Homo sapiens: one gene and its partner. The protein of the gene in region 1 purifies or fractionates together with the protein of each later gene. This does not show direct contact. Each region holds a gene or a part of one and is shown on either strand. Other genes may lie near its edges.

Evidence for each region.
Region 2: the proteins of NUDT14 (region 1) and NAA16 fractionate together in Homo sapiens (co-fractionation; one large-scale study listed by BioGRID). This does not show direct contact.

What each region holds. Positions count from the first base shown.
Region 1 is NC_000014.9:105,175,230-105,178,472, forward strand, and holds part of NUDT14 (uridine diphosphate glucose pyrophosphatase NUDT14), read right to left. Parts: intron 2,507-3,243; coding exon 2,463-2,506; intron 1,799-2,462; coding exon 1,734-1,798; intron 1,543-1,733; coding exon 1,305-1,542; intron 759-1,304; coding exon of another isoform or gene 737-758; exon of another isoform or gene 259-736; intron 1-258. UniProt on the Homo sapiens protein: Hydrolyzes UDP-glucose to glucose 1-phosphate and UMP and ADP-ribose to ribose 5-phosphate and AMP. The physiological substrate is probably UDP-glucose. Poor activity on other substrates such as ADP-glucose, CDP-glucose, GDP-glucose and GDP-mannose.
Region 2 is NC_000013.11:41,366,739-41,370,544, reverse strand, and holds part of NAA16 (N-alpha-acetyltransferase 16, NatA auxiliary subunit), read right to left. Parts: intron 3,107-3,806; coding exon 2,893-3,106; intron 1,456-2,892; coding exon 1,262-1,455; intron 1-1,261. UniProt on the Homo sapiens protein: Auxillary subunit of the N-terminal acetyltransferase A (NatA) complex which displays alpha (N-terminal) acetyltransferase activity.

The DNA of each region.
Region 1 (3,243 bases):
TCCAGCCCCTCCCATGCCTCCCGGCTGTGCTCAGTACTATGGGCTGGGGAGCTGGGGGCACAGTGGGCGTGGCCCACCACGGGGTAGACACCTGCAGAAAACCAAGGCCCATCCTTCACACCCAAGTCCACCCTTCGGCATGGAAATTCTGTTTTGTTGAGACAGAGTTTCGCTCTTGTTGCCCAGGCTAGAGTGCAATGGCGCGATCTCGGCTCACCGCAACCTCCGCCTCCTGGGTTCAGGCTCACCGCAACCTCCGCCTCCTGGGTTCAAGCGATTCTCCTGCCTCAGTCTCCTGAGTAGCTGGAATTACAGGCTCCTGCCACCACGCCTGGCTAATTTTGTACTTTTAGCAGAGGCGGGGTTTCTCCATGTGGTCAGGCTGGTCTCGAACTCCTGACCTCAGGTGATCCGCCTGCCTCGGCCTCCCAAAGTGCTGGGATTACAGGCGTGAGCCACCGTGCCTGGCCCAGCGTGGAAATGCTGCCTTTAACTTGGGAGTCCACCCATCCAGCCAGGAACGTGCCCAGGTGAAGTCCTTGAGGCTGCTGAGGTGGGAGGGCCCCAGGCTCAACCCTGAGTGGCCCATGTGCCAGGCTGACAGGTGCAGAGACTTCCGGTGCTTCTCCCAGTGGAGCGGGCCCTGGCCTCTGGAGGAGGCTGTGGAGGCTGGTGCTCAGCTGGTGGGGGTGGGGGTCTGTGACACCCTCCTCCTTCCCCAAGACCTCAGCTGGGGTCAGGAGCCCATCGTAGCGTCCCTGGGGAAGTGGATGGGCTTCATACCAACATCTAGTCCTGGGAAGGCAACCCCACCCCAGCTGGCAGCCCTCGCGGGGCAAGAGTTGGTGCCTCGAGTTTGGTGGGTCAGGTCCCAAAGCGCAGGCTCTAGTGCCTGTTCCCCAGGAGAGCTGGAGCCACCCCTTCTCCAGCCCAGGACACAGCTTCTCCCTCATTCCTAAGCCACCCTCTGAGAACAGAGCTGTGAGTCACCCCCACCCCCAGCGCCCGGTCTTAATCCTACAGGAAGTAGAGGCACCTGTCAGCAGCAGCTGTCACCCGGCCTGCCTCACACAGCTGGGGGCCGCAGGCTGGGGGCATGGGGCCGAGACGCTGCAGAGAGAGCCCCAAGAGCCCAGATTCTGGCCTGGCTTAGGAGCTGAGGCGCATTCGGTCCAACCCTCCCCTAATCCCATGTTGGAAAACAAGGAGGAATCCATCCTGCTTGCACACTCCCAGGGACGGGGCCCTCACTCTCTCCCATCTCCTGAGTCACACCACAGGCCTGAGGGCCTGGTCCCACTCACCAGTATGTGGCGACCCGGCGCAGATCAGAGGGGGCCAAGTGGTAGCCACACTCCTCCCAAGCCTCCTTGCAAGCCACTTCCTCCAGCGAGAGCCCAGGCTGGTCCACGAGGCCGGCACACAGCTCAACTGTCACCCCCGCTGAGCCGGGCAGGGCTGGCTGTAGCTCCCGAGGCCCGTCCTGGTCTACAGCTGCTAGGGACCCTGGGAAGCGGCGCTCCACCTCACCCGCATACACAGCTGCGTGGGAAGAAGCCAGACTGTGCTCACAGCCACGTGGTGGCCACCTCCAGGTCACCCACACAGCCAAGCCCCCTCCCAGGGCCTCAGCTTCCCCTGGAGCCCCCTCCCACATCTGTATTCAGACCCTCAGGACCACAGGGACCTGAAGGTGACCCTGCAGATCCCCTTCCCACCCCAGCTGGCCTCACCTGGCCGGAACTGCTTCACCAACACCAGGCTCCTCCGAGAAGAGTTGAATAAGAGAACGGTCACGCTGTGTACGGGGGGAGGGGCTCAGCACAGAAGCACTCCACTGGCCCTCGTGGGGCCCCACCTCCCATCTTTCTGTTCCCAGCGTGGCCATCCCACCTCCTTGCCAGCAGCCCAGGGAGGTCAGGCCCCTTGCTCAGATAGGATGGCTGAGGCCCAGGCGGGACCAGAGCTTTCCAGGGTCACAGTCTGGCCAGGACCCAGACCTGCTGTATTCCAGCTGGCAGGATGGGAGGCGGGGGGCAGGGAAGGACACACGGGCAGCTGAGTAGGTCAGGGTGCTCGCAGCTGAGGCCGGGTGACTGACAGGACGTTTGGCCCTCACTGAGCAGCTGCCCACCAGCCACACTCCTCGAGCCACGTCGCCATCCAGCCCAGACCCTGGATGCTAGGGGCAAAGGCTCCAGGACAGCCTCTCCCTGCCCTGAGAGGGCCTGCCCACCATCATGGTCCCGGTGGCCTGAGCAAAGACCTGACTCAGCCCCCAGGCCTCAGGCTGACCCCTCAGGGATAGGAAACCCAGAGGCCGGGCAGAGAGAAGGGACTTTTGGAGCCCACGCAGGGAACAGCAACGTCAGGGAGGAGAGGGCACCTTCGCCCTGGGCCCAGTGTCCCCGTAGACATCAGTCTGGGGCTTCCCCAGTGGCCAGGCTGGGCCAGGCTCTCACCTGTCATGCGTCTTCATGAAGTCCCAGGACTTCTGGGCACCATTCTAGAAGGGGCAGGTCAGCGGTTAGAATGTCCCAGGATGGGCGGAGGTGCTCGGGGAACCGAGGAGGCCACAGACCCATTGCACCCACTCCTAACCAGGGAGATCGGCTCGTGGCCTGGGCCCACGGGAGCCAGGAACTGCAGCTCCCGTGGGCAGAGGAGCAAGCAGCCTGGGAGGGGCAGGGAGGTCAAGGACAGCCTAATACCCTACGAGTGAGGCAGAAGACCAGGGCAAAGGGCAGGGAAGGTGTCCAGGCACCTCATGAAACACTGCCCAGCACAGACCGAGCACAAGGGGCTGCAGAGAGACGTACACCGTCACCAAGTATAGGAAGGCTCATGGAGGCTCGGGGAGGGCAGGCGTGACTCCCTCACAGCAGGGCAGGAGGGCCCTGCAGGCAGAGGAGAGGTCAGGTTTTCCTGCTGATGCTTCCTTGGGCCACTGAACAGGTGGAGACGGGAGGGCAGGAGGGGCCGGCACCAGGAGTGGATGGGGAAGGGTGGCAGGAGGGGCTGGCACCAGGAGCAGATGAGGAAGGGTGGCGCCCCAGCCAGGTAGGAGATCGCACTGCAGGACTCGGTGACTGTCATGATGGTGACCAGGCTCGGCAGCCCCCCCACACACCCCTACCCCCAGTTTCTGGCCTCGACTCTCCCACATACCCTGTGGTCCCGTTCTCCTGTGGCCACCCTCCACCTTCCCACTCCCCCACACTGGGCACACCACCCTGGCAGGCC
Region 2 (3,806 bases), on another chromosome or scaffold:
CAGCTGTTATTTTTTCCCTTCAAGGCTCAGGGGTTAGTAGCTTTATAGATAAAAGGCAGCCATGGTCATAATCCCAACTGCATTTGCACAAAATGGTACAGTTAGCCTATCCCTTCCTGCCTTAAATCCTGGTGTTCGCTTATTTTCCTTACTAATAGATGTCCTTTGTGGCTTTTATTTTTTCCTGTGATAGAGCACTTTTTTTCTACATTAAAAACCTGTTCAGGCAGATACCTCTTCTCCTCAATGATTTTCTCAATGGCATCTGGAACTTCTCTGCCAGCTCTTGGTGAGAAGTTAATTCTTCTGTTATCTGGACATTTTTTAACCCAAACATCTTTCTAAAATTATCAAACCATCCTTTGCTGGACCCTCAAAATTCAAACCTATGTTGTTCAAAGGCCAACTGTACTAGACTTACAGTGAATAAACCAGAAAACTAAATATTTCCTTAAATCTGATCCCAAAACAACTATTAACACTTGAGAAAATCCTGGAGGTGCTATCTCTTTGTAGCTACAACATTTCTAGTAAGACATATAAGGTAAAATGATTCCATATGTAATGGACAATTGTATTGCTGCTGTAACAAATTACCAAATATTTATTGACTTAAAACAACACACTTATTATGTTATAGTTCTTATAGGTTAAAAGCCCAACACAGTCTCACTGGGCTTACAATCAAGGTGTCAGCAGGACTGCATTTCCTTTGGAGATTCGAAGGGGGAATCCGTTCAATGCCTTTTTCAGCCTCTCTAGACTGCCCACACTCCTTAGCTTGGGGCACCCTCCTTCCATCTTCAAAGCCAGCAACAGCAGGTTGAGTCCTCCTCACATTGCATCATTCTGACCTCTGCTGCTGGCATCCTCAACTTTTAAGGCCCCTTTTGACGATATTAGGACCACATGGACAATCCAGGCTAATCTATCTTGAGGTCAATTCATTACAACCATAAATTCCATCTCCCACCTTAATTCTCCCTTGCCATGTAAGGTTACATATTCACAGGCTGGGGGGACCAGAACACAGACACCTTTGCAGGGCCATTACTCTGCCTACCACAATTGCAATTCTATGTATAACTTGCATTAGCCAAAATTTGTATACTGTCACTCAAAGATAATTGACGGCTATTATAAAAACCTTGAAATATTTCAAATGGCTTCTTACAGATTTAAATAAATCATGTTAACTGTCAGAACGGAACCAAATAGCATAAATTTTACCAAATAACAAAGATAGTAAAACCCATCTCACCCTTTCTAATTTTTCAGGTATAAGTTCTTCCTTAAGGCCACTGGCTTCTTCTTCTTCTTCATCTCTTTTTTTCTTTTGATTTTTCTGTTGACGTTCTCTTTCTGCATGCTTTCTTTCTTCTTCTAGTTTAGCCTTTTTCTGAGCTCTTCTCTGCTTGCTAAGCATTTTCTTCAATTCTTTGGCTGACAAGTTTTCTATAAATATCCAAATGAACAAAATTCTGAGCCAATGTTTGCATTTTCTTCATATTCTTCTGTAATACATACTGTTAGTATGGTTGTCCCTTGGTATCAGTGGGGGATTGGTTCATGACCCCCACCCCCACAAAGTCCACTGATACTCAAGCCTGTGATATAAAATGACACAGTATTTCCATACAACCTATGTACATCCTCCTGTATACTTTTAATTAGATCAGCTTTAAATCTTTCACCTTCCTTTTGCTTTAAGTTGCATATAATGACTTCACTTTTTCATAAATTATATTATGGTCTATAGGTATGCCTAAAATAATGTAAATGCTATGTAAATAGTTGTTACACTGCATTGTTCAGGAAATACTAATAATGACAAGAAAAAAAGTCTGGACATGTTCAGTACAGATGCAATTTAAAAAAACATATTTATGATTTGTTCCACCCATGTGGAACCCACAAAAATGGAGGGCCAGCTGTATACTTTTTTTTTCTGTTTTTTGTCTGGGCAAGGAGGGATGCAGAGGCAACCCATATAAAAGCTTTTAGAAAGTGTATCCCCAGTGACTAGAACAAAATTGGGCACACAAAGGACAGCCAGTAAATGTTGCATTAACTAAAATTGACCAATAGTAGCCCAGTTCTGCCTCCTACACAATATATGACTCCAGGCAAATCACTTTGTCCTTCTCAGTATCAAGTCTTTCAAGAATAAGTGAGATAATACATATAAACACCTGTGATCTCTAAATACTATATAAATATTAGAAATGAACAGCTACCTAGGAATATCTGAGATAGTTACCTAGGCTCATTTCATGCTAACTATTTCTCAAATATTCCTAGATATTAACATTCTAGTGAATAAAAAACTGTACAGATATTCTCACTGATATTCTTATTTTTAATAAAGTAGGAACTAGAAATTTTAAGATTATATATTTTTTCCTAAGGAGCTCAAAGCTATTTTCAGTTACAATTTTTTAAAAAAGAAAGAAAAAAACTAGTCCACAGACATTTCTATGTTTCCTAAACTCGTCTTTTTAAAATTTTTGTAGCGACAGGGGTCATGCTATGTTGCCCAGACTGGTCTTGAACTCCTGGCCTCAAATGATCTGCCTGCCTTGGCCTCCCAAAATGCTGTGATTACAGGCGTGAACCACCATACCCAGTTCTTAAATTGGTCTTTCTGAAGACAAAAATAAAAAAAATTCTAAGTTGTTCCATTAAAGTAATTTAGAACCATCAGCTACAGAATATCATCCCACTTTTTTTAACTCTCTCTGCAACATTTTTGTTTTTTGGCATATGAGTTATCTAATGTTTGTCTTCAACTCCAACAGACAATATATTAATATTTTTCTAGGTATTGTTTACGCTAATGGCATTCTGAAATTTAGTGTCCTTTTAAAATCTTTTAAGTTCCTATTCAGTTACCTGAGTTTATTTCTTGTTGTTTGCTTTCATTGGTTAAGGGATTATCATACAATTTCAAGTATATTTCAATCGCTGATCTAGCAGCCTTGAAATAAAAGGCATGTCTTCTGAGTATATCTTCTAATCTCAAAAGGTCAACATAGGCACGAAGGGTCATCTTTCTCATGCAGTATGTATGGAAGTCGAATTGGTCATCAGTTATCTCAAAAAAATGCTTAAAAACAAAAATCACAAAATTAACCTTTACATTTATGTCAATAATGTCTACCTTTAGAAAAAAAAAATTGTAAAAAGCCCAAAAAACAATTTAAACAGTCACAATTTTCACTTAGCTGCCCTCTCCAATGTTTTACACTATAAAGGATATGAATTATTTTTGGCATTCAACTTGAACTTTCTCTTCCTACAAACCATGCCCATTCCCTACAAATCATGTTTTGTGATGATACTCAACTTCTATATAAGTCAAAAGATCAGGTTATTTTTTAAACCTGAAAGTTAGTATATATTAATATTTTAGTTTTAATGAAATACTCTTCCTCCATATTCCCTAAAAACCAGCATGGCACAGTTAAACAGAGCTCTGAATGAAGACTAAATATGTGTAGGTTCACACTAAATATTTACAAATCTGACTGCTCTACTCAACTCTACCATTTTCAAGGGCAATCCTTACCCACCGCCTGCCACAGGGCCTAATACATAGCAGACATTCAGTAAGCACAGTATTTGCCCACTCAAGAGATAAGCTTCTTATTAGGGATGCGACCCTGAATAAGCCTTTTAATTTCCTAGACAATTATTTAATCTAAGTTAAGAATAAAGAAATCCATACAGCCAATTTCTTAAGGTTGTTAAAGGATCAAATAATGTATTTTAAAGTTCATTTTCAACAGTAAACTGTTATATAAATA